Regions from separate parts of the Homo sapiens genome. Here regions 1, 3 and 4 are each linked to region 2. Evidence: fine-mapped expression QTL. A gene starts in region 2. Each other region holds a variant in brackets. All regions are shown on one strand. Distances are between the middles of the regions.

Region 1 (8,163 bases), 160 kb after region 2:
AACCCTGCTCTAATTAACACAGTGCTCCCATTACTTAGATGAAAAATCCTTTCTTCTTATCCTGTTATGCTCTATCATATCTTACCTATCCATTTTGGCTACTAGCATTAAATTATCATAGCAGTGGATATAGCATTATACTCTTGAGGTTTACTTCCCTCATGATTCCCTACCAGTCCTCAAGAAATACAATTAATTTCCTCTACAGACAAACTACTCACCCACCCTCCCTAAATGGTCAATACCGATGTATTTAAAGGTTGCTAGCAGTACCTTTTTAGGAGAATTCATCTTAATAAAACTCCCTTAAACTTTCTTATTAACCAAGTTTTTAACCAAAAATTTCTACCTACAGCATCAAGAGCTAATCTACTAATTCCCATTTCTGCCTGGGTCCCCGAAGCTCTGTTAGATGCACCATTCATTACCATTGGGCCTTCCCACCCAATTTGACCACTTGGGCCCATTTTGAGATCTTAGCAGTTTCCCCTTTTAAAAATACATCTGATCTGCCTAGTTGCCACTCCATCTAGTCTTAACTTTTGTCTGTTTTATACGATGGTCCTTTACTCAGCTAGCCAGCTCTCTCTTCCTTCTTATTCCATCATAACCTTGATCCAAGAATGGTTCCTTTACCCCCCAGTCAATACCTGCCTTTCCTCCAGTCATCCCCTCACATCAGCAGGAACCCTTCACTTTCTTCTTCCATTCCTTTCTTCCTCATTTTGCCCCAGAGAATCATGCTGCTATATCTTCTGTGTCCCTCCTTCTTTCAGCTGTCACCTGTGTGTCATTCTTAGGGACTCAATGGGTTCTTCTGGATACTCCCCTCCCCATGGGCACTCGCTGCTCAGCCCACTGCCCTCTGCCCTGTGCCACATTCTCCACTGTATTTGTCTGTGCTCTCAGATCTGCCTACACTTTCATAGGATTCTTGCCACTGGCCTGCCCTTTATGCCCATCCCATTTAGCCTCTCTCACCTCTCACCATACTGACCAAACCCATTACTTCTAACATTTTTCCAACAAAGCTTCCTGGACAGCAAAACCTTATGCCCTGGCTCTTACTTTGCCACCTTCTTACCTTACTCTCTCCTTGTTAATACACAACTCTGACAAATTCCCAACTCTCATTTCCTAATATTCCCATTTAGCCCTCTTTAATGCCCTTCCATATCTGTTGTTTTTCTGCACTGCATGTTCTGCCCCCTACCTCATTCACACGTTCTCTTTCCCTATTTAGCATCCAACCTCCATCTTTTGTTCTCTCCTTCTTTGCGATTTTTGCATATAAGTCTCCTCAGTTGCTTCTCTCACTTTTGGCAAGTCCTAATATGTTTTCTTAATTTCTGAGTACATCCTTAATGTCCCTCTCAGAACATTTTTCCAGATTTCCCTTTGGAGGCTTCCCCTGTATAGCCTAACCTTTCATAGTGATGGATACATATTCTTTTTGAGGTTTCCTCCCCTCATATCCCCACTGTCTCCCTCATTCAAAACCAGTTTTCTACTCTTCAGATAAGCCTTCCCTTCCCCTTAGATAGCATCTAACCTGGCTTCTTTATTTTCCATCATGACCTTTCGCCCAAGTATGGTGCCAAATACCTCCAGTTAGTATCATTGACACTTTTTTTGGTCAATACTAAGTGATGCCTTCTCGTCTGGAAGCAATTTTAACTTCACTATTGTACACCTTTTTATTTTGCCTTATAAAAACTATATTCAGTATCCCTCCTTCATTCAGAGACTGTGTATGTCAGTTCCATAGATTCAGTACTGTCTTTTGGATAAACAGACCCCTCACACTCAACACTCACTGTTCAGACTGCACACTGGATCTGAGATCCACAGCTTCCTGAACAGTGACCCCTCATAACCTCAATTCTTACCTAGCCACGTTCTCTCCTTCCTCTGTCTACTTGAGTGGCTGTGACTGGATTAACATAAAATCACTCTACCAGAGTTGCTACTCTCCCTGTCCCAGTATTCCTCATCCTGTCATGCTTCAGTGCCCTTCCTCACTGGCCTGCTTACTGTGCTGCAAGTTCAGCCTCCAGCCTCATTCATTTATCCCTTCCCTTTTGTACCCTCCATCACCTCCATTCTCTCCATCTCTCCTCTCCTTTCATTCAAGTCTCTTCAGTTGCTTCTTTTAATTTTCAGCTGACCCTAACACAACAGTTGCTAGCAGAGGCTCTTTATCAGAATTGTTCCTAGCCTGCCTTTGTCTAAAGCAGTGGTTCTCCAACTGCAGCTGGTTAAAACAAGCTGCAGGGCCTTACCCCAGGATGTGGTTTGGATCTGTATCCCTACTCAAATCTCATGTCGAACTGTCATCCCCAGTGTTGGAGGTAGGGCCTAGTGGGAGGTGACTGGGTCATGAGGCCAGTTTCTCATAAATGGTTTAGCACCATCCCCTTGGTGCTGTTCTTGTGATAGAGTTCTTACACGACCTGACTGTTTTCAGTGTGTGGTACCTCCTCCCACTCTCTATCTTTCTCCTGTGAAGTGCTGGCTCCCCACCATTCACCTGCCGCCATGATTGTAAGTTTCCTGAGGCTTCCTCAGCCATGCTTCCTGTACAGCCTGTGGAACCTTGAGCCAATTAGACTTCTTTTCTTTATAAGTTACCCAGTCCCAGGTATTTCTTTATAGCAATGTGAGAACAGATTAATGCACCCTGAGTTTCTGACTGACTAGGTCTGGGGGAGGGGAAAAGAATTCATATTTCTAACAGATTCCTAGATAGTGCCATGTAACACATTCTAAGAAGCATTGCTCTTCAACTTCTCCCTCAACCAAGCCCTTTAATTAAAAATCTCCCACTAAGGCATCAAGAGCGAGTCTACTGACTCATTCCTATTCAGGTCTTTCCTTCTCTCCCATATACTAGTCACTGCAATCTGGCCTTACACCCACTGAATTTGGCCAGTTGGGCCCATTCTGAGATCTGGCAGGATTCTCCAGGCATCTTTATGGCGCTGTGGTCTTTCTTATTACCACGCCACCTTTTCAGAATCATTATCTAGTTTATTTAATGCTCCCCTTAGCTTTAACCCCTCTTCATGTCTTTTGGCCCAAATATGGGACTGTCTCTCCAGTCAGTCCTGCCATTCTTCAAATGACCTTTTCATCTGGAGTCAACTTTAATGTTTTCTCCTATTCCTTTTCTCCTTGTTACCTATCTTGCCCTAAAGATGTACGCTACCTTATCTTCAGCCTCCCTTCTTTTAGCTGCTGTCCATATTTCATTCAGATGGACTCTGTCTCCTCCTGAATGGCACTTCCTAGCCAAATTCTCTCTAGTGTCTGTCTCTCATCTGTAGAAAATCTTCACATGACAGAGTAACTTCTAAGAGTAACTTTAATACCGCACTTACATGATATTCATTTGTTTCTCCCCTTTGGTGATTTGCCCTCCCTTAATTATATAGAGTAAAATTTCATCTACCATCTGTACCTGGAAACAAAGAAGTTTCACCCTTGAGATGGGTTTCCAACATGATCTCCAGCCACTCCTCTTCCAATATTAGTCATCCATTCTACAAACTACTCAAAGATCTATCCTGGTGTCTTTAAGTGCTGCCCTATTAGGGCTCATCTTAATCCATCTCCTTCTAATCCTTCTCATTAAACTTCTCACAAAAGCTTCGCATTACTTTTCAAGCACTTGTTCTTCTTCCATTGTATCTACTGCTTTTCAAAGTCTGCAATTAAGAGCCAACATTTGACTGAATAAACCCACATTTTTTAAGGGTTTACAAGATTTCCCATTCTGGGAAACACTTTCCTCATTTTACCTGTCCATGCCACTCCACCTACGCTTACCTACTCTTTGTATAGTTCTCCCTTTACACAGTTTCCAGTCTCTCCTTATTTAATCTTACACTTATGGGGCCGTATCCCTCCAGTCAATACCTGCCAATCTTCAAATGACTCCGTCTCTTCTGCAGGCTCTTCCACTATTTTCCCCAGTTGACCCTAGTAGAACAACTGTTAGTCACTTGTTTTTTCAGCTATCATCTTGTGTATCATTCTCATGAATTTAGTCTTTTCTTCCTCGTCACCTCCACACTACTCTGAAAACACTTGCACTTTCAGTTCATTCCAGACCTTCATAGGGTTCCTGCCACTGCCTATGGCAAGAATCCATTCCATTTAAACTCCTTGACCTTTCACTCTATTGGTCACACTTGTTGCTTCAAACATCATTCAAGCAAAGATTCCCAGATGGCACTTCCTCATGACACCAGTTCTTATTTATCTACTTACTCTTTGTATTCTCTTTCCTTCTTTGGTTGTAACCCAGCTTAACTCACATCTCTCTACTGCATATGCAGCTCTGCCATCTTCTGGTGTTCCTCATTCTGGCCCTCTTTAATGCCCTTCCCTACCCATACATATATATGTATATGTGTATATATATATATACACACACACACACATATATATATATATATACACACACACACACACACATATATATATATATATATATATATATATATATATTTTTTTTTTTTTTTTTTTAGACAGAATTATTTCACTCTTGTCACCCAGGCTGGAGTGCAGTGTGGCCTGATCTCGGCTCACTGCATCCTCCACCTCCCGGGCTCAAGTGATTCTACTGCCTCAGCCTCCCAAGTAGCTGGGATCACAGGCACCTGCCACCACGCCCAGCTACTTTTTGCATTTTTAGTAGAGATGGGGTTTCACCATGTTGGCGAGGCTGGTATCAAACTCCTGACCTCAAATGATCCACCTGTCTCAGTCCCCTGAAGTGCTGGGATTACAGGCATGAGCCACCGTGCCCAGCCCCTACCCACACTTTATATTCCACACTCCAGCCTAAATCCTACATCTTTTCATCTTTTAGCTTCCAGCCTCCATCTTCTCTTTCTCTTCCCCTGTGATATTTTCATTCATGTTTCCCTAGGAAATGTCTGTCACTTTTAGCCAATCCTCACATAGCAGAGTAACTTCTAGGCAACTTCAGTGGAACACTGTGCAATAGTCTACGATATCTTAACTGTCAGTCATCCTTTCACTTGCCATCTCTCTCTTTTTTCTTTTTTTGAGACGGAAACTCACTCTGTCACCCAGGTTAGAGTGCAGTGGCGTGATTTTGGCTCACTGAAACCTCCAGGATTACAGGCATGTGCCACTACGCCCAGCTAATTTTTGTATTTTTACAAAAATTTTTAGTAGAGACGGGGTTTCACCATCTTGGCCAGGCTGGTCTCAAACTCCTGACCTCAAGTGATCTGCCAGCCTCAGCCTCCCAAAATGCTGGAATTACAAGTGTGAGCCACTGCACCCGGCCTTACCATCTCTACAGAAATAGATATAGACTTTTTTACTTCACTCTTCATAATCACCCATTCCCCATCTAGTAGCAATAATCCATTCTCTGGACAAACTACATGTTCACACTCTCTTAATAAATCAAGCCTAATATTTCTAAAGTTGCCATCTATAGCTTTTTTGTTGTTTTTTGTTTTTTTTTTTTAGATGGAGTTTTGCTCTTGTTGCCCAGGCTGGAGTGCAATGGGGCTTGGCTCATGTTAAATTGTCAGAGTTGTATATTAACAAGGAGAGTTGTGTATTAACAAGGAGAGTTAACAAGGCTCACCAACTCGGCTTACCACAACCTCTGCCTCCTGGGTTCAAGTGATTCTCCTACCTCAGCCTCCCAAGTAGCTGGGATTACAAGCATGGGCCACCACGCCCGGCTAATTTTGTATTTTTTTTTTTTTTTTTTTTTTTTTAGAAGACACAGTGTTTCACCATGTTGGCCAGGCTAGTCTTGAACTCCCAACCTCAGGTGATCCACCTGCCTCAGCCTCCCAAAGTGCTGGGATTACAGGCGTGAGCCACTGCACCCGGCCCATCTATAGCTTTTTATCAGCATTCATCAGTTTATAACTTTCCTATCAAGCAAGTCCTTTAATTAGCCATTCCCTCAAA[A/C]GCTTTAAGAGCTAGTCTGCTGCTGCCTCCTACTGAATTCCTTGCTCCTTAACCCTTTCTGTGTATTTCCCATGCAGCCGACCATTTAGACCTAGACAGGATACCCCATTCTAAATCTTTATTCCACACCTGCTCTGCCAGTAGGCCCTTCCTTATGTAATATTTTCTTTCCTTTGCTTCCAGTCTCTTATTTCATACTCTCTTATGACTTTTGGCCCAGCAATGCTGTCTTACCTTCCTGTTGATGTGTGTCATTCCTTAGTGACCAACTCCTTTTCATCTGAGGACAACTCTAATGTTGCTTTCCAGTACCATTCCTCCTTCCCTTTCTGAATTTGTCCTAGAGAAAAACTCCCTCCCACCATTTGTACAGCATTCCCACAGACTCAACACGATTTTCCAGGTAGGTGTGTATTGCTTATTTTGGCACTCACTGCCCAGCTTTCCTCGATGTCCTACACACTATGCTGCACCCATTGCTTCTCAGTTCAGTCCAGACCTGCATAGACTGCTGCAGTTAGCCTGTACAGATCCATCTCTTTTGCCTTCTTTCTAATCTTTTGCCCTAGTGACATACCCTTTTCTTTAATTATTATTCTAACAAAGCTTTCTGGAAATACCTCATAAGTGTCTCTTACTTTGTCATGGTCTCCCCCAGGTGGTTGAGACCTGGCAGCTCCCTCCCACCTTTCCCACTCTGCCCTTTGCCACACTGCATTTTCTGTACCCTGGCCCAACTCACATGTCCCTCTCCTGTCTTAGCTGCCAGCATCTATCTTTTCTCTAATTCGCTGGGTTCTTTTCATACAAATCTCCTTAGTGGTTGACTCTCATTTTCAGTGAATCCTCACAAGACAAGCTTAATTTCAGAGAACAGTTTTAATGCAGATCTTCAGGGCATTCTTTCCTGATTCTCTTTGGTATTTGCCTTGCTTTGTCTGTGTAACTCTCATATTTACATTATGGCAGTGCATTCAGTATTTTCTTGCCATGGAAAGGCCCCCGCATCTTGCCTCCTCGCCCCATTTCGTCATCCTCTCCAGCAGCTTCGACAGATTACTGCCTAGACTTCCTTAGATCCCTGTAACCTCTCATTGTATCAATCAAACCATTTAAGTAAAAAAATTCCCACTAAGGTTTCAGGAACATTATCTCTACTAACACCATTCCTATTTACTTCCTTAATCTCTTTCTCTGTATCAGGTCCTTATATGTAAGTGTCTTCTGTCTTTACCTCCACATAAAACTCAGCCCCTGTGCCCAGTCTGTGATCTGCCTTCATACCTGATGTTGTCTCTTTGTCCTCCTCATTTGCTGTAGCCTCTCTGCTTAATTGGAACCACACTGGGTTGCTATAATTAATGTCTCTCCTGACTCTTCATTCTAACTTGATCATGACCTTTTCCCCTACCATATTCTGTATCTCTTTCATGGTTTAAAAAAAATGCCTCACCTGACCTGTTCTGGCCTTGTGTTAACTTTCACTTCTTTCCCCTTCTCTCTGAAGAAAATCCTATCCTAATTAAACCACAGTCGTTCTTTTCTCAACCCCTAATGGCATTGAAATTGATTCTGCAGGCTTGATAGGTTCATTCTTTCCTATATGGGAAAACCCACTGCCATCGTCTGTTTTCAGCATATTCTGTTGAATCCATCTGCTCTCTGAATTCAGACCCATTCTTCATAGTCCCCACCAGTGGCTTAAATTAGGCACCTTATCTAGCTTATCTCTAACCTTTCAATCTCTTGACTGCCTCAGCTCACCAGAGCCTGTTGGAAAATCATTTGAAATACAAGGTATTTTACAATTTATTCCTAAACAAATTATCTTCTCAGCACCTAGGCATTAGCATGCCTCTTACTGTTTCCAGCTGCCCGGTGGACTTTCTGGCCTCTTTCCTTTTGCCTGTTTGTACATCTTCCTCTGCTTGCCAAAGCTCTTTTGCATCTTTTGAGAGCCAGTTAAACTATTATATCGTTTCACATTTTTTACAGTTTTCCCAGGCTATTTGTTAATCCCGCACCCTCACATGGCACTCTCTTAAAACTTAAAGGATCTATGGCATTGAGTTGTAAAGTCATAGATAGATCACACACACACACAGCCCACACACTTATTTAACTCCTAGACAGCTCCTAGAGACAGAGATCATGTCTCAGTCATCTTTTTATCCAAGTGTCTGGCACATAAGCTTA
Region 2 (8,163 bases):
TGAATCCTTCCCCAAACTGGGTAACTTTCTCTGCCATTCACTTCCAAGGGCCAGTAGGCAAATTTAATCAATTACTTAGGAAACTGAACAGGTTTTGGACAAGTAATCTGGCAATGAAAAGAGTGTTTTCCCTCCCAGGGAACGGCTTCCTCTGATTCTGGTTTCTGAGTTCCCACTTCCCCCTCTGACAGGTTTTGTTGCATGATTGTAGGGGAATTGGAACTTAGTCCAGGAACTTGGTCCAAACTTAAAATCCCAAGGGACTCAGCTTACTCCCTCACTCTTCTTCCCTCGTTTCCCTACAGGAAAGTCATCATCAGCACAAACCCACTGAGAACCTCTGGCTGCCCCGCATGCCTCAGAAAAAAAAGTTAAGATCTAAGCTGAAACCAATCTTCCCTTTGATACTGTCGGATGATCCCACATCCAAGCGAGAACAATGGTTTAGGTGAAATCTTGCTTCTTCTTGTACTTGCTTTCTTTCCTATCTTTTCCCTATTCACGTTTCTGGTTCTTTGCCATACAATTTAATGACATATTCTTTGGTCGTACAAAGATAGTAAGACACGACTTTCCCTACATGACCCTAACCTCATTGACACATGAATCAAAGAGAAACAGTCATGCAAAACTAAGGTTTTGCACTGGCAATGGTTTCAAGATTGAGGGGAAATATTCCAAGGTCTGTGCTTTGAAGAAACAGGAAAAAAAAAAAAGTACCCTCAATACAAGTTAGGCGCTATATCACAGGAACCATGTGCTATGAGAACACATTAGACAAAAGAGGTTTTATGTGAAACTACTTACAAGAGCAGCCTATGTGTAGTTTAGAGAGGACAGAAGAGATTCTGGAGTTCCTCCAAAGGTTTACAGTGTTAAGTTCAGAAGCATCCCTTGTCACGGAACAATATTCCTACTTGGCACCAATCAACAGGCTCCTATCATTGTCTTGTCTTCTCTGAGAATGTAGCCAACTTTAAAGTGAATGGTGGGGCTGGGCGCGGTGTCTCATGCCTGTAATCCCAGCACTTCAGGAGGCCAAGGTGGGCAGATCACTTGAGCTCAGGAGTTCGAGACCAGCCTGGCCAACATGGTGAAAACCGTCTCTACTAAAAATACAAAAATTAGCCAGGCGTGGTGGCAAGTGCCTGTAATCCCAGCTACTTGGGAGGCTGAGGCAGGAGAATCGCTTGAACCTGGGAGGCAGAGGTTGCAGTGAACCAAGATCATGCCACTGCACTCCAGCTTGGGTGACAGAACAAGACTTGTGTCTCAAAATAAATACATAAAATAAAATAAAATAAAATAAAATAAAATAAAATAAAATAAAGTGAATAGTTCCATGAATCCCCCTGCCCTAGGATCTACTAAACAAAGAACTTTCTTTGTTAAGGTTTTCCACTGACAATGATTTCAAGAGCGAAGGGAAGTATTCAAAAGTCTACGCTTTGAGGACACAGAAGAAAATGTACCCTCAGCTCACCTTTGCTCCAGTCCATGAGAGAGATATGAGGAAAGATGGTAAGCTCCTCTCTTTCAAAGCAAAGGCTTACTGGACTGAGATTTGGGCTGGAGATACAATCCATGAGGATTATAGATGTGGCAAACTGGCTTCTCTCGTGGTAGTCCTGGAGACTATTTTTCCCTATAGCATGGAAGTTAACAACAAATAGAGGCTCAAAAGGTGCAAAGCTCTGGACCCTGTTTAAATCCTCAAATTTCAAGAAAGCTCTAGCAGTGTTTACTAAGCTATATCACCCAGCACTTTAATAGTTTTTGCCATATTGATGTATTATTTGCTGTTAATTTACTTAGCATTTTTTAAAAGGATTTTTAAAAAATCTTGTCCTAATTAATACTATATCATTGATATCATGGTTTTGATGTACAAATTATATGCTTTTCTGAAACACTTATATCAAATTTATAATAATGAAATTTTAAAATGTTTATCTATGTACCACCTAGAACCACCCAGTGGTATGCATATTATACTTTGAAGAAAAAACTGCTCTAAAAGGGCCAAAGGATAAGTCTGTGTGTCTTAGAGGTACAAAAGTCTCTGGGATTGGGGTAGGGAATGGGGTAGAAGGGGCTTGGAATAAGGTTGTATGGCAGAGGGTACAATGAGAATCCTCCTCACATATTATCATTTATTTAACAGTATTTCAAGGGTTCCTACTAAGTGTCTGACACTTACCAAGCACCAACAATATCACTTTCAATATGTGAAAGAGATGAAACAGATCATAAAAGGCCTTGACAGGCTGGGCGTGTCCGTAATCCTAGCAGTTTGGGAGGCTGGGGCAGGAGGATTGCTGGAGGCCAGGGGCTTGACACTAGCCTGGGCAACATAGTGAGATCCTGTCTCTACAAAAAATAATTTAAAAAAATTTAACAGGGTGTGGCGGCATGCACCTGTAGTCTGAGCTACTTGGGGGGCTTGAGGAAGGAGGATTGCTTGAACCTAGGAGTTCAAGGTTGCAGTTAGCTGTGATTATGCCATTGCACTCCAGCCTGGGTAACAGAGTGAGACCCTGTCTGAAAAACAAACAAACAACAATAACAAGAAATCGAAAATACCACAATGCCTTAAATATTATTTAAATAAAGGTTTGGGTTTTATCCAGTAGGCAGTTTGGACCCAATGAAGAATTTCAGGGCACTGAGTACACATTTGTGTATTAGATATATATAATTGGTGGGTCCTCAGACTTCACCAGCTCATGGTTTTAAGATAAGGTCCATTTCTCCTACTGGGTTTCTCTCCTCAAACAATTCCTGAGACTCCCTAAGGTATCCTTGCCTGTCCCACAAAGCCATTGCAGTGATTGCTCAACCCGTCTGCCAGCCATCCTCAGTCCAAATAGTCCTGATACCGAAGGCCTGGGGTCATATTATACCATCCCTTAACTGGCTTCTTCAGGCTTCTCTGCTCCTGCTATACCTATCTGCCACCACATCCCATCCCATTTCCACCTACTGATGCTCTTAACTCCGTAAATACTGCACAGCTAAAAACAACCTGTGGTATTAAACAAAACTTCATAGATATACAGAAAAGCTGAAGAACAGCAGAGAATGATTGATCTTGCTTTACAAGGGGCTAGTCTTAGGGTCAGCCCCAAATCTGAACTCAGGTCCTTCTACTTCTCAGCAGGTCTCCGGGGCATTACCCACCTTGAGAACCTCTGGGCCTATTATCTACACTGTCTCTGCCTAGGTTCCCAATACCCTTGGGCCAAGGAAGAGGAAGAGGATGTTTCCTTCCCCAAAGCCTGTTTATTTTCACCCCCAGAATAAATGAGTGCAGACTTCTATTTCCTTCAAAGAAAACTCCACCTACAAAGTATGACTTGACCTTTACAAGCCATATAAAGCAAACATAGTAGTTAATAGTACATTTAGTCAAGTCGGAGTTAAATCTTAAATGATACCATATGTAGGATATCAACAGTTCATCTTAAATCTGTATTTCAGGGAAAGAATTTCTCTAGGATGTAGAATGTAATCTAGGTTAGAATTTCTCTAATTTTGCAGGGGCACGATCCTGTTGAGTATAGACCCAATTTACATTTCTAAACAAGTTATGCCAGTGAAGCCAAAGGCAGACAAAGTTTCTTAGCTACACTCTTAGACAAGAGAACAGAAAGCCAGCATACACTCTGAGAAAAAGAGGAACATGAGTTAGGAATGAATGCACGTTAATTTAGTGAGTTTCTTAAGTGTCAATATGGTTTCAGATGGAATCATTGAAAGAAATAGGCTTGAACAAGGAAGACTCTAAACTGGCAATGAATTTTCCACTGGGTTTTGATGAAATGAAGGAATCCAAAAATTATAAAATAGGTTGGGAATGGTATTACACGGTCCAAAATCTACCCTCTAAAGACCAGCCTCTGGTCCCTCCAAGTGCGTCTCCTTTACATCTCACATTAAGTATCCTTCGAGTACTTCTGAAAAGCCACATTCACCAGGGTGCCTGTGCTTTGTCGTAGCTTCCAAGAAGTCAGCGAGTGAAAGGCCAATTTCCAAAGTGATTCGGGAACCACTGACACTCGCATCGCTCTTGGAAGACATGCCCACCAGAACCGCGCCCGGGGAGAGCGCCTTCCGCAACGGGAGGGCCCCGCAGTGGATTATCAAAAAGGCCACGGTCATCGGGTGAACACAGACCCCTCAGTCCTCCCGCCTCGCTCTCTTGAGACTGAGGGGTCCGCAGAAGTCGCCACCCAAATAAAACCACATTCCTGCTGCTGCGGGCGTGGGCTCCCGGGTCGCAAGCCGGGAGGGTCGAGCCGAAGTCTCCGGCGGGCCGCAAGAGGAGAAGGGGGCGTGGCTGCGTCCCGGGGGCCGAGGGCGGCCGGGGAGGGCGGGCCTTGGCCCCGAGTGAAGGCGCGGCGGCCCAACCGGCGTGAGAGCGCGGGGCCGGCCTTCCTGCAGCCTCTTCCGCTCGCCGGCTGCGGCGCCTGGGACGGTTGCGGTGGGTCTGGGCGCTGGGAAGTCGTCCAAGATGATTAAAAAATTCGACAAGAAGGACGAGGAGTCTGGTACGCGCGGGGCTTCCGAGGCCCACCCTCAGCCGCGGGACGCCCCTTCCCCCGCCCGCCGCCACCTGCTTTCAGGCCGGCGGGGCTGGGGGCGTGGGCGCCGCCGTGCCAGGGGGCCGGAGCTGGAGCCGGCCCCTCCCCTCCCCTCGCGGCTGCCCGGGGCCTGCCCGTAGCCCCTCCCCCGGGCGCCGGAGCCTCCCTTCGGGCCGCGCGCTCCCGCCCCGGCGCCCGCGCGCGCCCCGTTCCCGCCCCTCTTGCGGCGCAGCCCCTCCGAGCCGCCTCCTCCCCTGCGCGCGGGCCTCCGGCGGGGGCCGAGGGCGTGCGCGCGTCTCCGCGTCCAGGGGTGCTGGTAGGGTCGGACCCCTAGTGGGAGCACCCTGTTCCCGGGGCTGGGGTCGACGGCACAGGGTGTGTGTGGAGGAACGTTCAGGTGCCTGGTACCTTATCGTTTTCCTGGGGTCACCGGCTCTGTCCAGGTCCCCGGGGGCAAGACTGTCCCGTGGGACACAGCTCGTTGAATGCTCAGGTGTCCAGAAGTGACCTGCGTCTTGATGCCCGTCTTTGGTCCAGAGCAAATGGGGAAGATGCCAAGCATCCTCAAAAAGAAAAAAATTCTCAGTGTTTGGTAGCATCTCCCACAGTGTGAGAGGGGGTTGGGTTAGTCAACCTCCATGGCCTCTTGCACCTTTACGCCTGCATGATTCTCTGGGAAACTTCGTTTCTGCCTCTCCTTAAGTGTTAGAAACACATAAAATACTGCTTACCTAAGGAAATCAAAAGCACCCTACTACAATCTCATTAATCTTCGTTGTTGTGGAAATGACACATTTTTAACATTCATGGAAAAAGAGGGCAGGGAAAGAAGACACTCATTTTGGAGAGGGTTGCTGCGAAAGAGAAGTCTCAGCTCTTCGAGTATGGCAGTGACAGAGCCGGGATCAAAATGATTTCATTCAGTTCGTATGCGTATTAGCCATGATTATCACTGTGCCATCCAAGTGTTCACTTCCCAAGCATTCAGTACCCTTCTCTGGAAAGTATATAAGTTTGTGTAGAACAGCTGTTCAGGACATTTTTTTGTTTTGTTTTATAAATAGGTAGTGGCTCCAATCCTTTCCAGCATCTGGAGAAGAGTGCTGTTTTACAGGAGGTATGACTGGGAAGTATCTTGTGCCCTTTCTTTTCTATTCTGTTTTAGAGTGGTGGGCAGAGAATCCCTGGGCTGCTGTGATCACGACATGCAAAACAAGAAACGTAACAGAGTTTAGGGAATATAGATTTGAGGGAAAAGAAAGAGGGGTTACTTGTCACAGGAGAATTTGGAGCTTATAGAAATGCAAAGACATGAAGACTGTCACAGGTTGGGAATTTTAAATGTAAGAACAGGTGTTTAGTGCAAGGTTATTGAAATCAGTTATCTGTATTAATCTCATTGTATTAGTATGATATAGATAAGTATTGTGATCCTTATTTAACTGGTATAGCCCATAAAGTTGAAGTAGTCAACCTAAGGGAATGAGAAAGTATAGGATGGAAAATCAAGGCCACGTGTAATAATTTATCAGATACCTTAGTAAATTGAGAACTATAGACAATGTTCTTTGGATACCGTGATTAAAAATAGTCTGTATTAAAGTTGATTTGCTATAATCTGTGATAGAAAAGGTAGAAAAGTAGCAATGTTTTTTATGTTTTTTCATAGGCTCGTATATTCAATGAAACTCCAATCAATCCAAGAAGATGTTTGCATATTCTTACAAAGATTCTTTACTTACTGAACCAGGTATATTATTTTTATTTTCCTCAGATAAGTGTGTCCTGGAATAGAAATACTGAAGATTCAGTGAAATACTTTCTGGAAAGTATATTTATTTATTTTAAATTCACTTAATTTTAACATATACAACGTTTGGTTAACAAAATAATATGTAAAACTTGAGTACGAGGACTATGACATATACAGGTTGAGTATACCTTCTTTGCAATGCTCGGAACCAGAAGTGTTTTGGATTTCAGATTTTTTTGGATTTTGGAATATTTGCAGAATACATACTCACTGACTATTGCTAATCTGAGTATCTGAAATCCAGAATGCTCTGATGAGTGTCTCCACTGAGTGTTATATTGGCACTCAAAAAATTTCTGATTTTGGAGCATTTCAGATTTTGGATTTTGAGATTAGAGATGTTTAACCTATACTTCCTTTTTATTCATGAGATCCTAAACCAGTGATGCGCATAGTAGATTCTCAATAAATCCTTTGGTTTCAATTTAATGAGTACTAGTTAGAGCATGTTGTTTACATGTATTTGGAGATCTTCATGTTTTTCTGAAAATACAGTGCAAGATCAGGCAAATTCCAGATATTTTCTTTTTTATGTGTGTAATGATGTTTTAAAGCTTTGATTGTTAATATTCAGATTTTATATTTATTATCCCTATGCTACCATTACTAGCAGAATAATTCTGGGCAGTAGCTTAACCATTTTATGTGCCTTGATGTCCTTTTCTCTACATGGGGATTATGATAATACCTGTTACAGAGTTGTAATGACTAAATGAGATAATTAGTGTAAAGCACTGAGAATAGTCCTGAACATACAGTAAGCATTCAGGAATAGTTTTCCTTCCGTCATTCAGCAAATATTTATTGCGTAGCTGCTGTGTGCTGTGCACTGTTTTAGGTGTTGGGGATATAGCAGACAAACCAGCAAAAATATTTGCGCTCATGAAATGTAGATTCTGCTTGCTGCTGTTGTTATTAATTTTTCTTTTCTTTTTCTTTTTTTTTTTTTTGCCCCAGACTTAAAAAAAACTCATGAAATGTCTAGGGCCTTAGAAAATATGATTTTGTTTCATGGATTCATATTCCCTCAGTATCAGTGGGGAATTGGTTCCAGGACCTCCATTGGATACTAAAGTCCATAGATGCTCAAGTCCCTCATACAAATGGTGTAGTATTTGCATATAACCTACACATATCCTCCCATATATAAGTTGTCTCTGTGATTATAATACTTAGACTATAATCTCTAGATTACAATACCTGGTGCAATGTTAGTGCTGTGTAAATAGTTGTTGTGCTGTATTGTTTAGGGAATAATGACAAAAAACCATCTGTACGTGTTCAGTACAAACATAGTTTTTTTTTTCCTTGAATATTTTCAATCTGAGCCTGGTTGAATCCACAGATTCAGAACTCATGGTTATGGAGGGCTGACTATATATGTCTATACACATACAGACGGACACATAAAACATACATATATACCATATACCTCAGGTGGTTTACATATGGTGCTAAGATAACCATGGTTTCCAATTTGAATTCTAAGAGAATATATTATCTTTACTTTGTTTTGTGACTGAAGACCTCACTCAGAGATTTAATAAAGTTTTCTTGTTTACAAATGAAGACTAAGCAACAAGCACATAGATTTTTTTTATTTTTTGAGATGGAGTCTCGCTCTGTTACCAGGCTGGAGTGCAGTGGCGCAATCTCGGCTCACTACAACCTCCACCTCCCTGGTTCAAGCAATTCTCCTACTTTAGCCTCCTGAGTAGCTGGGATTACAGGCATGCACCACCACGCCTGGCTAATTTTTATATTTTT
Region 3 (8,163 bases), 63 kb after region 2:
AGGGAGCAAAGAAGACCCCTTCCCCAGCCTGAAGGCTTATGGCTGAGCTCTAAAACAAAGATTTCTTATGTGGCCTGGCAAACTGAGGTGTAACACAGAGAAAGATCTCTAGAATCTGCCACTACTACTAATGCCCTGCTGAAAGGGGAAACCTGATCTGTTCCTCAGATCATTTGTAAACAGCAGATAACTGAATTTAATTAAAGCTGCAGCAAAGTCCTGACCCAGATCAACTATTAGCTGCTAAAAATGAAAAAGGACCTGCACTTTTCTAATGATAAGTATTAGTTACATCAGTGTCTACTGCACCTTTATAAGCAGTGTCTAGCAAACAATCAAAAAATACAGAGGCAGTGACATGTAACCCATAAACAAGAGGGAAAAAAATAGTCAGTAGAAGCTGACTTACAGATGACCCACATATAGAAATTAGGAGGCAGTGACTTTAGAAATTACTAGGCAGTGACTTTTAAACAACTTCTCTAAAGTGAACACCAAAGGAGTTTTGTAAAGTGAACTTTTGTAACTTTTGTAAATTACATCTTTCCACTAAAGAGTGGAAAAGATGGACAAAATGTGTAAATGGGTAAGGAATTCAATAGATAAATAGAAACTAGAAAAAAAATCTTGAACCAAAAAATACAATATCAAAAATAAAAATTTATTTGAAGCACTTAATAGCAGATTGGACACAGTGGAAAAAAGATTAGAGAACTTAAAGACAAGTCAATAGAAATTGTCCAAACTGAAGCATAGGGAGAAAAATAAGAAAAGAAAATAAAAGAATAGAACATCTGAAGCCTAGGGAATATATCAAAAAGTCTAATACTTGTGTAATGAGTCTCAGAAGGAAAGGAAACAGAATGGAATAGAATAAATCTTTGAAGAGATAATGGATATGTTAGTCCATTTTCATGCTGCTGATAAAGACATACCCGAGACTGGGCAATTTACAAAAGGAAGAAGTTTAATGGACTTACAATTCCACGTGGCTGGGGAAGCCTCACAATCATGGTGGAAGGCAAGGAGGAACAAGTCACGTCTTGAATGGATGGCAGCAGGCAAAGAGAGAGAGCGCTTGTGCAGGGAAACTCCCATTTTTAAAACCATCAGATCTCATGAGACTTACTGTCATGAGAACAGCATGGGAAACACTTGCCCCCATGATTCAATTACCTCCCACTTGGTCCCTCCCATAACACATGGAAATTCAAGATGAGATTTGGGTGGGGACACAGGCAAACCATATCAATGGATGAGAATTTTCCAAAATGAATGAAAGGGGCTGGGTGCGGTGGCTCATGGCTGTAATCCTAGCACTTTGGGAGGCTGAGGCAGGTGAATCGCTTGAGCTCAGGAGTTCAAGACAAGCCTGGGCAACATGACAAAACCCCATCTCTATCAGAAGAAAATACAAAAATTAGCCAGGCATGGTGACGCAGGCCTGTGGTCCCAGCTACTCAGGAGGCTGAGGTGGGAGGATCGGTTGAGCATGGGAGGCTGGGAGGCAGAGGTTACAGTGACCTGAGATGACACCACTGCACTCCAACCCGGGTGACAGAGTGAGATCCCCATCTCAAAAAATAACAACAACAAACCCAAAATGAATCCAAGATGGCCAGTGACACTCAAGTAGGATAAATAAAAACCACACCTAATCATAACCTAGTCATATATATTACAAGTAAAAAGTTGAAAACCAAAAGAGAAAGAATGAAAGAAAAGCTTGAAAGTCGCCTTTTTTTAAAAAAAAGACAAATTAGATTCATTAGATTCAGGGAAACAAAAATAAGAATCGTTGACTTCTCATTAGAAAAATGGATACGAGAGGATAATGGACATCTTAAAATTGTTGAAACAAATAACTGAAAATCTGGAGTTCTATACTCTAAAAGTATTCTTCCAAATGAAGGTGAAATTAAAACATTTTCAACCAGGAAAAAACAAAAACCCGAAAGGATTTGTGTCTGCATACCTGCATCATGAAGGATGCTAAAAGGAGTTTTTCCAGCTAAAAAGAAATGATAGTAGATGGATGCCAGGATCTTCAGGAGGAATGAAGGACAAGAGAAAGGGTAAATGTGTAGGTAAATTAAAAGGTAAATATGTAGGTAAATTATAAATATATACAATTTTTACTAAAACCAGCAGCAAATTATGGGGCTTATATATATGTAGAAGTGAAATATATGAAAATAGTAGTATAAAGGGCATGAGGGAGAAAAATGGACATTTGTAAAGTTTTTGTATCATGCAGTAGTATATTATTTGATGATACACTGTGATAAGGATGAATATTGTAATCTCTTGAGGATGAATATTATAACTAACAAAAAAATCTTTGTAAAACATATAGATCTTAAATGTCAACAGAGAAGATAAAATGGAATATTTAAAAATATTCAGTTGAGCTTCCTCCTTCCAATAATGGTGTAGCTT[G/A]GCCAGCTTAATCCTCCTGCAAATAATAATTGACATTAGTACAAAGCTATACCTTCCCAAAATGAAGATAACCCACAACAGTATGAAAATATTGGGGAGTGGTGAAAAGCAAGCAAAAACTGGAGGGAAGCAGTTGATGCCTGAAAGACAAAAGCTATACTGGGTGAAATTTGTGGGGTTTTTTTGCTATTCTCCTGAGGGCATTCTGTAATTCCTCAGTGTAGGATGACAGAAAGCTACAGTATTTCTGGACAGAGTGGTCAAAACAGTTTGAGGTTGGAAGAGTAACTGAAAACTTAGAGTGGAAAACCTGGAAAAGAGGGAGCCATAAAAGGAATGAGTCTCAAAATGAATTTTAAACTCTACAAAAATCACTGGCTGACCAACTGAACTACATATATACAGGAGAATACTCTAGGAGACCTGCCAAAAGCAGTAGTTGTAAGATAAAAGAATTGAATGGAGAATTCAGCTGCAACTCACTATGGAGGAAATAAAGTTTGGAGTTTGATCCCAGCCAAGCTTCTTGCTAAAGAAACTCCATGAGTTCTAGAGTCTTTACAGTATATCATTACAATGTTTAATAGATGGTAAAAATTGCCAGAAGTACAAAGAATTTGGAAAATGTGACTAGTAGCCAAGAGAAAAAGCAATCAATAGAAACTAACCCTGATATGATCCAGACATTGGAATTAGCAAACAAAAACTTTGTAGCATCTATTATAAATTTGTCCATGACTTTATTTATTTATTTATTTATTTATTTATTTATTTATTTATTTATGACAGTCTCTCTCACTCTGTTGTGAAGCCTGGACTGCAGTGGCGTGATCCTGGCTCACTGCAACCTCTGCCTTCCACGTTCAAGCAATCCTCTCACCTCAGCCTCCCAAGTAGCTGGGACTACAGGGATGCACCACCACACCTGGCTAATTTTTGTACTTTTTGTAGAGATGGGGTTCCGCAGTGTTGCCCAGGCCGGTCTCAAACTCCTGAGCTCAAGCAATCAATCTGCCTCAGCCTCCCAAAGTGCTGGTATTATAGGTGTGCACCACCACAGCCAGCCTTGTCCATGACTTTAATGGAAAATAGTTACCATGAATGAACAGGGGAAATGGAAACGACAAAAAGAGCTAAGTAGAAATTCTAGAGCTTAAAAATACTCTGTCAGGATTCAACCAGAGAAGTAGAACCTGGAGGATATAAATATGTAGAGATTTGTTTATTGATTATGTAATTCGGGGGCCAGCTAAGCAAATCTAAAATTCATAGGATAGGCTGTCAGGAAGGGAAGATTGCAGGGAGGCTGGAACTCAGGGGCACAGGCCAAAGTTGCTCTCCGTAGGTGAAATTTGTCATTTCACATTTTACTGTAAACAGCAAGATAAAACTGGGTCACATCTTCATTTTTGGAATTTTCCTCAAGTAAATATCCAACTTCATCGTTTACAAGTTCTGCTTCACAAATAACTACAGGGCACAAATTCACTAAGCTCTCTGCCAATACATAATAACAAGGATCTACCTTACTCAAGTTTACATTAATGTGTTTTTTACTTCCTTCTGAGCCCTCACTACAGCATCTTTTAAGTCCAAATTTCTGTAGGCAGTTCATAAGCCCTGACCAGCAGTGTCCTTAAGAACCAGATCGATTGATCTTTCTTTCTCCTTCCTTCCTTCCTTCTTCCTTCCTTCTTTCTCTTTCTTTTCTCTTTCTTTCTTTTCTTTCTCTCTCTCTTTCTTTTTCTTTCTCTTTCTCTTTCTTTCTCTCTCTCTCTCTCTCTTTCTTTTTTTTATTTATTTTAAAGTCTTGCTCTGCTGCCCAGGCTGGAGTACAGTGGCACAGTCTCAGCTCACTACAACCTCCGCTTCCTGGGTTCAAGCCATTCATATGCCTCAGCCTCTTGAGTAGCTGGAACTATAGGCATCCCAGCACTTTGGGAAGCTGAGGTGGGTGGATCATTTAAGATCAGATTTCTTATAAGTCTCTTCAAAACTAGGCTTCCTCCATCATGCTCCTCAAAATTCTTCCAAGCTTCCACCCAGTGCCTAATTCCAGTCAGTTCTACAATTTGAGGTATTTGTCGCAGTAACACTTCACTTACAGGTACCAAAATCTGTTAGTTTTTTTTATTGTTGCCATAACAAATTACCATTAAATGTAATGGCTTACAACAAGATCCATTTATTATCTCAGATCTGTAGATTAGAAGTCTGACACAGGCCTCATGGGGCTAAAGTGAAGATGTTGGTGGAGTGCTGTTGCTTACTGGAGGCTTTGAGGAAGAATCCACTTCCAATCTCATTTAAGTCGTTGGCCAAATTCATTTCCTTGAGACTGTAGGTTGTAGGTCTCTGTTTCCTTGCTGGCTTTCAGCTGGAGGTTAGTCTGTGCCTCTAGAGGTTGCCTGTATTCCTTCTCATGCTTTCAATGAGCAACTAAAGGCCTCTCTTTGAGTCCCTTGCATGTTGATTCATACGTGTCAGAGCCAGCAATAGTGTGTTGAGCTGCACTTTGAATCTCTCTGATTTGCCTTTCTGCCACATTTCTTCTGCCTCCTCTTTCAGCACATCTGCTTTAAAGTGCTCATGTGATTAGATTGCACCTACCTGGGTAATTTAGGTGACAATCTTAATTATATCAGCACAGTTCCTTTGCCATGTTGTAACGTAACATATTCATCAGTTCTAGGAATGAAGACATAGACATCTTTGGGGAGCCATTCTGCCCCAGCAAGTGCAATAACTGAATCAGATAATTTGCTGAATGGACTTAACAGCAGATTAGAGATGGCTGATGAGAGAGTCAAAGAGAGTTAGTGAATTTGAAGATAGAGCAGGAGAAAGTAGCTAGTTTGAAGAACAGAGAGAAAACAGATTAAAGAAAATAAAGAGCCTCGAAGAACTGTGGGATAAGATCAAGTGGCCTAACACATATGTAATTGGAATCTGGAAGCAAAGGTGATAGAATGGAGCAAAAAAGATATATGAAGAAATAATGACCAAATATTTCCCAGTATGGGTTTATTCTAGTAGTATAAGGTTGATCTAACAGTAAAACATAGCATAATATACCTCATTTTAAAAATACAGAAGAGTCTTAATGCCTTAATGGGTGCAGAAAAAAGCGGTTGATAAAATTTAATGGCAATTCATGATTGAAATCTCTGCCACCAGGACTGGAAGGGAACATGATTATTCTGACAACAGTACAAAAAAACTCCACTAAACTTTATACTTATTGGTGGACTATTAAAAGCTTTCCCCTAGAGATTGTGAATGAGACAGACAAAAATGCCTGCTATTTTTATTTTTTAAATAGTATTTTGCTAGAAGGCTTACTTTGTGCAATAAGTGAAGAAAATAAAATACCTAAAAATTTGAAAGGAGGACGTAACACTATATTTGGAGATAATATGGCTATATATATAGGAAATGCAAAATAAACTGTACATTATCTATTAGAGCTCATATGTAAATTTACCAGTGTTGCTGGTCAATATCCGAAGTCATTTTATTTCTTATTCCAGCAACCCATCAAAAAGATAAAATTTTGTAAAAATGGTACAATTTATAATTATATTGAAATCAAATCCTTGGGAATGTATCTACTAAAATTTGTGTATATCTCTACACAGAAAATTACACAATATTAAAGTATGACCTAAGTAAATGAGGCATATAACATTTATGGAATATTCAATATTGTAAAGATACATCTTCTTAAATTGACCTATGGATTCCACAAACCCCTAATTACAATCCCAATTGGCTTCTTATAAATAACCAAACAGAAATGCCTACATTTGTGTGTTAAAAGACATACAGTTGATCCTTGAACAACATGGGTTTGAACTGCATGGGTCCACTTACACATGGATTTTCTTCCACCTCTGCCACCCTTGAGACATCAAGACCTCCTCTTCCACCCCAGCCTACTCAATGTAAGATGATGAGGATGAAGACCTTTATGATGATCCACTTTCACTTAATGAATAGTTATATCTTCTCTTCCTTATGATTTTCTTAATATTTTCTTTTCTCTAGCTTACTTTATTGTAAGAATACAATATATATTACATATAACATAAAACGTGTTAATGAACTATTTTTGTTATCAACAAGATGATTAATAGTAGGTTATTAGTGATATTTTGGGGGAGTCAAAAGTTACATGTGAATTTGCAGCTACATGGGGGTTGGCACTGTTAACCCCATGTTGTTCGAGGATCAACTGTACAAGATGCCTATAGTACTGTTATTCATAATTGCCGCAAATTTTTTTTTTTTTTTTTTTTTTTTTGAGACTGAGTTTTGCTCCTGTTGCCCAGGCCAGAGTGTAATGGTGCCATCTTGGCTCACTGCAACCTCTGCCTCCCGGGTTCAATTGATTCTCCTGCCTCAGCCTCCCCAGTAGCTGAGATTGCAGGCACGCACCACCACACCCTGCTAATTTTTTGTATTTTTAGTAGAGACGGAGTGTGACCATGTTCGCCAGGCTGGTCTTGAACTTCTGACCTCAGGTGATCCACCTGCCTCGGCCTCCCAAAGTGCTGGGATTACAGGCATGAGCCACCATGCCCAAATTGCCACAAAATGGAAGCAGTCCAAATGTCTATCAGTGCCAGAATCAAAAAATAAATTGTGGTATATTCATATAGTCAGATAGTATACAATAATGGAAATGAACAATTACTGTTAAATACAATCACATAAATACATCTCACCAAGAAGTCATACACAAATGAATACATTTTATATAGTTCCATTTATGTTTATTTTAGACTTAACATAGGCACAACTAACCTGTGGTATTGAAAGTTAGTATAGTGATTATCTCTGAGGTAGGAGCACATTAATTTTGTAGTAATTCACGTATGATTTTCATACTGTCATGTGTAACACCAGATTAAAGGGATAGTAAATATTTATTTTTCCATATAATTTTTGCAGGTCAGGGGTTTGGGAATGTCTTAGCTGGATGGTTCTTATTTGGGGTAGAAAAGTTGATAATTCTGAATTGATGTTTACAAATAATTTTTTTTTAATTAGAAGCTCTAAAATTCCAGAGGATGACAACATGAGAAATAATGGTGTAGAAGGTGGTATTAGTTTATGGCCATACCACCTTAAACAAGCCAGGTCTCATCTGATCTTGGAAGCTAAGCAAGGTTGGGCCTGGTTAGTACTTGGATGCGAGACAATCTGGTAATACCGGATGCTGTAGGCTTTAAAAAAAAAGGAAAGTGGTTGGCCGGGTGTGGTGGCTCATGCCTGTAGTCCCAGCACTTTGGGAGGCCGAGGCAGGAGGATCACTTGAGGTCAGGAGTTCGAGACCAGCCTGGCCAATATGGTGAAACCCCCGTCTCTACTAAAAATACAAAAATTAGCTGGGTGTGATGGTGTGTGCCTGTAATCCCAGCTATTCAGGAGGCTGAGCAGGAGAATTGCTTGAACCCAGGAGGCAGAGGTTGCAGTGACCTGAGACTGTGCCACTATACTCCAACCTGGGCAACAGAGTGAGACTTTGTCTCAAAAAAAGTAAAAAAAGGAAGGTGGTATTAGATGGAAGTAAAAGTATGCTGTGTATGTGTGTTGTCATCTTGTATGGGAGGAAAATATGGTAATAATATAAAACTTTATTGTAATATTATAGATATAGCTAATATAATATTTAATTATATAAAGAATGTAAATTGAATGTAAAGCTTTCAAAATGTCGAA
Region 4 (8,163 bases), 170 kb after region 2:
CTTTAAAAAAAAAAAAACTTCATAAATCTCTTACTTAAAAGGCCAGCACCCTGTCTTCATCATCTAATTGATCAGCCATTTTCTAGTCCAGTAGTAGCCTCCCTCTACACATCACCAACAACCCCCTTCACCAACAAACCCTTCCACCCCAGCTCCCAGCATACACTGGTGCAGAGGGAGATCCCTGTGCTTTACTTTCCTAATACTGTCTCATACATCTTCTCAACACAGAGGCTGTCAACAATATCATCACATTTCTGGGCATGCAGCCATGTGAGAGGTCCGATAAAGTACCTGAGAACAAGAATTCCCATTCGCTCTATCTGGCAGGTAAGAAGCTTCCATCAGATTTTCCTTCCATTTTCTTGCAAAGCTTAATAATAGGATATAGATGGGCATCTTATGCCTTGCTGTTGTCCCATCATCCCATTATATGAGTAACAATTTGATACCCAGTCAAAATGAATAATTTGTTTTGCATGCTATTCTTGGTTATTCTTTTAAGATGTACATTTGGCCCAAAACAAATCTCTCCAACAGATACCAAGGCCACCACCAACATTCCTTTTGAGTACTCCAAATTGGTATTTTTGAATACCTTCTATGTACCTGGTTTCATGGGAATATAAAAATATATATATTTGGAATTTATGTTTGTTTAGGATTCAGTTTCCACAAGTCTCTGGAAAAGCTAAACTAAACTAATAGAAAGGAGATGCAGGGATAGCATGATAAATTTCATTATCCAGTGCTTGTTTTGGGTTCTTAATATGGTTTTCCTTACTTTTTTCTCTCAGGTATATTCAGAGGTGGCTATGATTTATTGGTGAGGTCCAGGCTGGCCTTAGCCGATGGAGTGACCATGCAGGTGACTGTCAGAAGTAAAGAGAGAACACCTGTAGATGTTATCTTAGCTTCTGTTGGATAAATGCTTACTGGACAAGAGGAAACTGATGCACACTACATGGTCAGTGGGCTTTTAGGCTAGTGGCATCAGTTTCCCAGAATCAGACTTTTGAAGATGAATGACTTTGGAGAAGCAAATTAAACATTTGGCCCTGAGCCAGCAGATCAAGCAAATGTCTATCTTTGCGCATGGGTTGTTTTTTTTTTTTTTTCTTTTTATTCTACTTGGTCAGCTTTGGGACGATAGTGCAGCTTTGGGTGATCTTGAAAATCAAATACTATCCTATACTCCAGCTGCTTAACTTCATTTTATTCTTTAATGTGTACCTGAAAGCTCCTGGCAATGCTGGAAAATTTTTATCCCAGAGGGGTGGGGGGGAGGGGGGAGGGGAAGCCAGAGTCCACTTTTGTCACAATTCATTTTTATTAATAGAAAATAAACACTTATTCCAGTTTCAAAGTTGTTATACTTGAAGTTGCTAATTTAAAAAAACGAATTTTAAATAATCACTTAATAATCCTGCTTTGACTAAGACAATGAAATGTGGCTTTAAAAAAAAAGTATTCAGCACCATTTGCTCATAGGTCTTTCAGAGTTTGTTCTTAAAGTTTCTGGAACTTTCCTGTCTGTAAAGTAACAGGAATTACTGAGCTACATTGGAAAGCCTCTCTGGGACAGGCAGTGGGGAGTTAAGCAGTCATCATAAAGGAATCAGTGTACATTCAGCATGGTGACTTGACTACACAACAATCCCTTCCCCTCTACTGTAGCTCAAGAGAGACATGCTTCTAACCACTGAGGTATGAGGAGTCTCAGACTGTTATTTGCTGTTAGAATTGGTCTTCCCAGCTAATAACAGTACATCTCTGGCACAGATGCTATTGGTCCTTAATGTCCTGTGATTTTAGGAAATAGTTTGGATTTAGTTCAATTTATTCAGAAACCAAATGTGTTTAATTAGCTTCACTACTCTGGCAGAGTAAGGGTATGCTGGTTTAGTATCTTTATAAAATATATATAATGTATAGGTAAATCATAGTCTTAAATCATACCTAAAATACTGTATCATTTAAACCAATATCTATTTTAACAAAATGTTTATAACTAAAAACAGCTGATGAAACACTAAATCCAAAGGTATGACAAAGAGGACTCAGCTCTGTGTTGCTTAAAGAACTTTTAAAAGGCATGTGCCCATAACGTCATTCGAGGAGAGGGAAGGAGCCCCCCTTCTCCTCCTCCTTACTATAGAATTCCTGTTGGGGGTGGGCCAGAAATTAGCACTTCTAAATATTTCAGAGAAGTCCAAAGTGTTAAAAAAAAGTCTTTTATGCAAAAGAACGTCTTTCTGCATCAGTGAATAGTAATGCTCATCAGAATTTCCTAATAGCACAAAAAACAAAGCCAAGTCTATACATTTGATCAGATATCAAAGTAATGGGAGGTGGACTATTATGTCAACCTTAGTCAGAGCTCCTGCTGGCTTCTTCCTATACACTGTTCACCAATTTGAGTAAAGTGGACTTTGTGAGAGAATTATGTTTGATGGCCAGGACCTCTTTTGGGCATTTCTTCCTAAGTGGAATACACAACACATAAGGGAGTAGGGGAGGTAATACAGGGAAGCTACTCTTTCCAGCTCAGAAGGAGTTGATGAAGCCCATATATGCATTCAAGAAGCCCATGGGATCCTCTAGCTGTGGATAGTGGCTAATGTGGTCATCCAGAATCGACACTGTGGACCGCGGCAGCGTTTTCCTAGTGGAAGAGAACAGCACGCAGGTGAACTTGAGGCTGGAGCGGGAGGGATGTAAGCCAGTGGGAAGCCCCAGTAAATGACCCTGTGGACACACCACACTGGAAGGAGCCACCAAAGAGCTTATTCACCTTCTACTCTGAAATTGTATCTTAGGCAGATAAACTTGCCAATTCCATTTATACAAACTAGTTTTTAAATGTTCATAATCCAACAAACAACAACTTGAAAATATAACACTTTTGCAACAATTGTCAAAGCAAGATGACTTTCAGCTCCTTAGAGAAGGATGAAGCATCAAACAAGTGGATCACACAGCAACTCACTGCCCAAGCAGAGATAACCAAGGATCTTCCCTTAATCCCAGGAGGAGATGAGAGAGGGGGTATTTTATTTAAAATTATATGCAAGCTGTTTACTACTAGCTTGTATCCAGTAGGCCACAGGAAGGTATGGAACATTCTTATGTGACATAATCAAGATTTCATATTCTGATACCTTCCAAGTAAGTACCTAGAGAGAATAGCAACCAATGAGAAGGCACTTTTCCACAATGAGCTCTTCTCAATCTCTCCTTGCCATCTGCTCAGCCTAAACCAATGAATTGGCTTTACAATCAGACTAAAACAAACAAACACTTTGTAGGTATATCCACTTTCAACCTTTGACTCACATGAGAGCTTTTTGTACACCAAGGAATATGTAGCAGTCATGACAGTGAAAACAGACTATGTATAAATCAAGAGAACGTATAACTGAATGTCTTGATACTACAATTATGTTAGAATAAGATTCCTCAACTCAATCTTTTTATTGTTTCCTGGATGAACAGCCAGCGAGGTTAAAGACAATGGCTAGAGCCAATAGCCCTCAACAGGCAATTCTGTTTACCACTGTCAGGATGAGATACTAACAAAACATAGACTTCTCTCGGGGAGACTCACCTGTACAGCTCCAAAAACTCTGGATAGGGATTTACAGGATCCAATGGCCCATAGATAAAATGAACTAGAAAAGAGAAAAGGAATGAAATACTTAACAGCTCTCACATCTGTTCTACTCCCACCCTAAAATTAACTCCTCTCCGAAAAGAAATGTTTTCTTCTTCCTTTTTTTATTATAATAGGCAAGGTCTCTCTCTCCCTTGCTCAGGCTGGAGTGCAGTGGTGCAGTCATAGCTCACTGTAACCTCAAACTCGTTGGCCCAAGCGATCCTCCCACCTCAGTGTCCTCAGTAGCTGAGACTACATACAGGTGTGCAACACCACACTTGGCTAACTTTTAAATTATCTGTAGAGAAAAATTTTTCTCACTATGTTGCCCAGAGTGGTGCCAAACTCCTGGGCTCAACCAGTCCTCCC[A/G]CCTCAGCCTCCCAAAAAGCTAGGATTACAGACGTGAGCATCCTCACCCAGCCCAAGAAAATATTTTCTATAAATAATTTTTTGTGTGATACAAAACCTAGCTTGTTTTATTAGGTAACCTCTAAAAAACTGCTAGGCACGTACCAGTTCATTCATTGGACACATCTCCTCCTACAGACAACCATTTGGTCCCTCATCCAGCTCTCCTGCACCCTGGACCAAATGGGATATGCCCAACTTTCAACATCCTCTAAGTCCAGGATACTATCATTCTTTAAGTCTCTCTTCAGTTATAACAGACCCTTGACATTTGAAATCAACCAATAATTTCCTGAGCACTAATCACTATGTGTGAAACACCATAATTTTTTTTTAAATCTGTAAGAATGAAAAGACAAATAAGCACAAACCACCTATAGCCTCTTGATTAGTAATCCAAACAGCCTTCTGTCCGAGCAATTCAGCATGTAATGTGGCAGTCACTGACAATGCACACCACAGAAATCAGTAATACCAACTACCTTTACAGTAATGTCTCAGCTTTTTATATACTTCACTCTACACACACACATCACTGTTCCAGATGTCATGAGTACAGTTGCCAGTAAAATAAAGGATACCCAGAAAATTTGAATTTCAGGTGAAAAATGATTTTTTTTTGGTGTAAGTAGGTCCCAAATATTGTACAACATATACTTAAATACTAAAAAAGCATTTGTTGTTTATCTAAAATTCAAATTTAACTGGGTATCTTATATTTTTATTTGCTAAATCTGGTAACCCTAATTGTATAAAGGAGTTGCGATTACTTTAACCCTATAGTCCTTCAGTTTCCTATCAATAATACAAAAATACTCACTGGGGATAGTTACAGAGGCAAGAGCTCCCACCCAGCGCCTTCTGAACTTCTTCCTCTGATTGATGTACTGTAAGAGACTGTAGGACAGGTAAGTCAGCATGTGCAGAACAAGAAACCTTTACTGTTACAGGGATTCAAGGGCATAACGAGCCACAAGGAACACAAGATACAATTTCTTAATCCAGAAGCAGTTTAGCATTCCTGGAAATGTCCCACTTAATTTATCCATTTCTGTTAACCTCTAGAGTTAACCACCATGTAGCTCTAGTAGTGATTATGCCTACTATCAATATAAGAATTAGTGGGTTTGTGTATTTATTAAGCAGGGAATGAGATCTAGGAAGGCTGACAGTTGGTTTGGATTTTATGTAACTAAAAAGCCCAGGTCTGAGGTTCCAATTTAGGCTCCACCACTACCTACCTCTCTGACTCAAACATATAACACAGATCTTTCAACTCGGTTTCCTCATTTGTTGGTTTGTTTTTTAAAAGACAGGGTCTCCCTATGTTACCTAGGCTGGAGTGCAGTGGCTAGTCACAGGTGCAATCATAGCTCACTACAGCTATAACTTCTGACCTCAAGAGATCCTCCCACCCCAGCCTCCCAAGTAGCTGGGAGTACAGGCATGTGCCAAAGGACCTGGCTAGCCTCCTCATTTTTAAAATAAGAGGATTGTAACACATGATCTTCTGTGTTGACATCTACTTCTTTTTTTTTTTCTTTTTTTTTTTTTGAGACGGAGTCTCACTCTGTGCCCAGGCTGAAGTGCAGTGGCATGATCTCAGTTCACTGCAACCTCCGCTTCCTGGGCTCAAGCAATTCTTGTGCCTCAGCCTCCTGAGTAGCTGGAATTACTGGCTAATTTTTGTATTTTTAGTAGACACGGGGTTTCATCATGTTGGCCAGGCTGGTCTCTAAACTCCTGACCTCATATGATTCGCCCACCTTGGCCTCCCAAAGTGCTCAAATTACAGGCGTGAGCCACTGTGCCCAGCCGACATCTACTTCAAAATTCTAAGTGTAGATGTTGATGAGCACAAAGCTTCATCTGACCACAGATAAAATGGAGAGGATTCCTCTTTCTCCAGCGTAAGACACCACTGCCACATTTTAGAACTCAAACTCATGTATTCTACTCATTCTGCCTGGCAACTCCAGGACAGTTATTTTTGTGAACCTCAAATATCTCATCTTACAAATAGTATTTACTTTTTGGAAAGGAAAATATAATTTTAAAAGACAGTCTTAATTGTTCTTCAGTTTTTTAATACTAAAATGAAATATTCAGGGATCCTGTTGGGGCTTAGGAGAGGGTGGGAGGATTGGCTCCCTCTAACATACAATCCCCAGCAAAGCCATCAGTAAAAACACTGGAAGCTACACTGAGCCAGGTGGCTAGAAGTCAGAGTCTTATCCCAAGTAGTTACAGCTATCACCACCTCTGGGTCCCTTGTGAAAGTGTCTACATTCTCATTTGAACCAAGGCATGGGAATTCTTTGTACAAGACAGAGAAAGAGAAGTCTGCCCTCTCACTCCCCGTTGCTGCAGAAAGATAGGCAAAAGGAAGAGCCTTGTACCTTGAGGGAGGCACTAGGCTACTTTCACAACCATGATTCAATACTTTGAAGCATTTAATACTAACAAAGAGTCCAGTTTCACTCTTATTTTCTATTTCTTTCTTCATATAGACCATGACTTTTTGGTTTGCCCCATAGGTCATCATCAGCCTTCCTGTGATAGGGAATAAGCCAGCAAGGAACAGAACAAGCAATCCCCACTCTCCACAAAAACACGTCTCTGGAAACCAAAGCAAAGGGTAACTTCTTACCTGTCAATGACTAAGTTCCCGTCATTGTTGCGGATCCCTGCCCACATGTCCCACAGCTCACTCTCAGAGGGCCGAGTATACGGCCCAAAGACTGGGGTGAGACTGAAAGAGTCCAAAACGCAGGAAGATAAGTGTGAGGAGAACTCAGAATGTTCAATATGGCTGGAACCTCAGAGGCCATGCAGTCTGGGCCATGCAGTCTGACCCATAAGTGATTTATGAATTCCTTCTACTTCCCTGGCAAGCGGCCAACACCTTTGCTTTAAAATATCAAGCCTTAGGATTTGGCCCAGAATTGTAATGGCAGCAACTTTTCACGACATTGCTCTAGGCCACAATCTTTGACAGTGACACTTACCCTCGAGAGAATACAAAGAAGTTCATCAGTCGTGTGAGGATGGGTGACAGCACACCTCCATCTTTGAGTAGCTGGAGGGGAATAAGTGGAGGTAAAGCTCAAGAACCCAGAGGAAGATCCTCACCGGGGCAAAAGGTTTTATACTAGGAACTAAATCTTTAGCCAAATCTCCTGCTACTGAATGGTTTGGTACTTGGCATTTTGTTTTGCCTACCCGCATTCTTCTCTCAAGGAAGACAAATCTATTTCTAATTCCATCTAAGATTACTTTTCTACAATTCACTAAATCCCTAAAACTTTAACTCTGATATATTCAAGTTTAGAGTAGGATCCTAATTTGTTCAAACATCAAGCTTGTGACACAGATCTTTCCATAGCTGTAATTTCTCCAAATATTTGTTGATCTCTTATTCTTAGGATTGGTTTTGGGTTTACGTAGGGGCCACTGCCTCTGCTTTAGTTGCCTAAGAAGGGAAAAAGTAACTTCATTAATAGAAATTCACAAGGAAGAGGATTTAACTACTGCCAGTTACAGGAGCTATGGCCCTTAAAAGGTCCCAGCATTATTTACGTCAGTACAAATCCTAAAACTAAAGGTCTATCAGTGAAGTACCAACCTTTTGGAGAAGGAGTGGACGGTGAGTCTCAGGAAAGATACCTGTAGAAGAGACTTATCTTAGTCATTTACCTACAGCTTTAATTTTTTTTTTTTTATAGAGACGGGATCTCACTGGGTTGCCCAGCTGGTCTCGAGCTCAAGCAATCCTCTCACCTCAGCCTCCCAAAGTGCTGGGATTACAGGTGCAAGCCACCTCACCCAGCCTACCTACATTTAGGTCAAAGGCAAGCCCATTATCAGAAACTACCCACCCTATTCACCATCACCTCTGCAGCCTTTACTACCAAAACAGAATTACAAATAACAATTTAAAACTGTCATCTAATTACTTCTCCAGGAATTCTGTGTTTAACTGGTCACAATAAATCCCACTGGAATTACTTTTCCCATCTTAAAGATAGTGAAACGGGGAGAAAATATATGGTCATCCAAAATGCTGATAACCAGGCTCTGACTCCCCTTAGCATTTCCCC

Alleles and levels. Alleles are on the strand shown, and positions count from the first base shown. SD is a standard deviation of normalised expression in the study named. Not every link is listed here.
In carriers of allele C in region 1, the expression in cerebellum of the gene that starts at base 4,434 in region 2 tends to be lower than with A alone (moderate effect, 0.47 SD a copy in GTEx).
With allele A in place of G in region 4, the expression in ovary of the gene that starts at base 4,434 in region 2 is lower (small effect, 0.39 SD a copy in GTEx).

What was found. PIP is the estimated chance that this variant, and not a neighbour inherited with it, causes the effect.
Region 1: its variant is the best candidate, but not a certain one, in a credible set for the expression of COPG2 in cerebellum (GTEx, PIP 0.52).
Region 3: its variant is the best candidate, but not a certain one, in a credible set for the expression of COPG2 in whole blood (TOPMed, PIP 0.70).
Region 4: its variant is the best candidate, but not a certain one, in a credible set for the expression of COPG2 in ovary (GTEx, PIP 0.87).

What each region holds. Positions count from the first base shown.
Region 1 is chr7:130,509,658-130,517,820 of GRCh38, reverse strand. All of the region lies in intron 20 of COPG2 (coat protein complex I subunit gamma 2), which reads left to right. Among named protein-coding and RNA genes, the nearest start is that of MIR335, 18 kb to the right of the region's middle. The variant A/C (reference allele first, on the strand shown) is at 5,968.
Region 2 is chr7:130,665,019-130,673,181 of GRCh38, reverse strand. COPG2 (coat protein complex I subunit gamma 2) reads left to right here and starts at 4,434. Exons shown (of 24, transcript NM_012133.6): 1 at 4,434-4,550; 2 at 5,648-5,700; 3 at 6,253-6,333. The coding sequence starts at 4,514. TSGA13 (testis specific 13) reads left to right here. Exons shown (of 8, transcript NM_052933.4): 6 at 306-448; 7 at 1,394-1,521; 8 at 3,999-4,539. The coding sequence ends at 4,168. RefSeq lists silencers at 4,062-4,171, 4,262-4,851 and an enhancer at 5,122-5,231.
Region 3 is chr7:130,602,301-130,610,463 of GRCh38, reverse strand. The region is part of intron 9 of COPG2 (coat protein complex I subunit gamma 2); the gene reads left to right. It also overlaps the pseudogene RNA5SP246. Among named protein-coding and RNA genes, the nearest start is that of COPG2, 62 kb to the left of the region's middle. The variant G/A (reference allele first, on the strand shown) is at 2,440.
Region 4 is chr7:130,499,441-130,507,603 of GRCh38, reverse strand. It overlaps MEST (mesoderm specific transcript), which reads right to left. Exons shown (of 12, transcript NM_002402.4): 7 at 7,689-7,729; 8 at 7,072-7,142; 9 at 6,714-6,815; 10 at 4,884-4,960; 11 at 3,608-3,671; 12 at 1,139-2,665. The coding sequence ends at 2,548. COPG2 (coat protein complex I subunit gamma 2) reads left to right here. Exons shown (of 24, transcript NM_012133.6): 23 at 232-330; 24 at 798-1,366. The coding sequence ends at 928. Among named protein-coding and RNA genes, the nearest start is that of MIR335, 7.4 kb to the right of the region's middle. RefSeq lists an enhancer at 2,354-3,553. The variant A/G (reference allele first, on the strand shown) is at 4,025.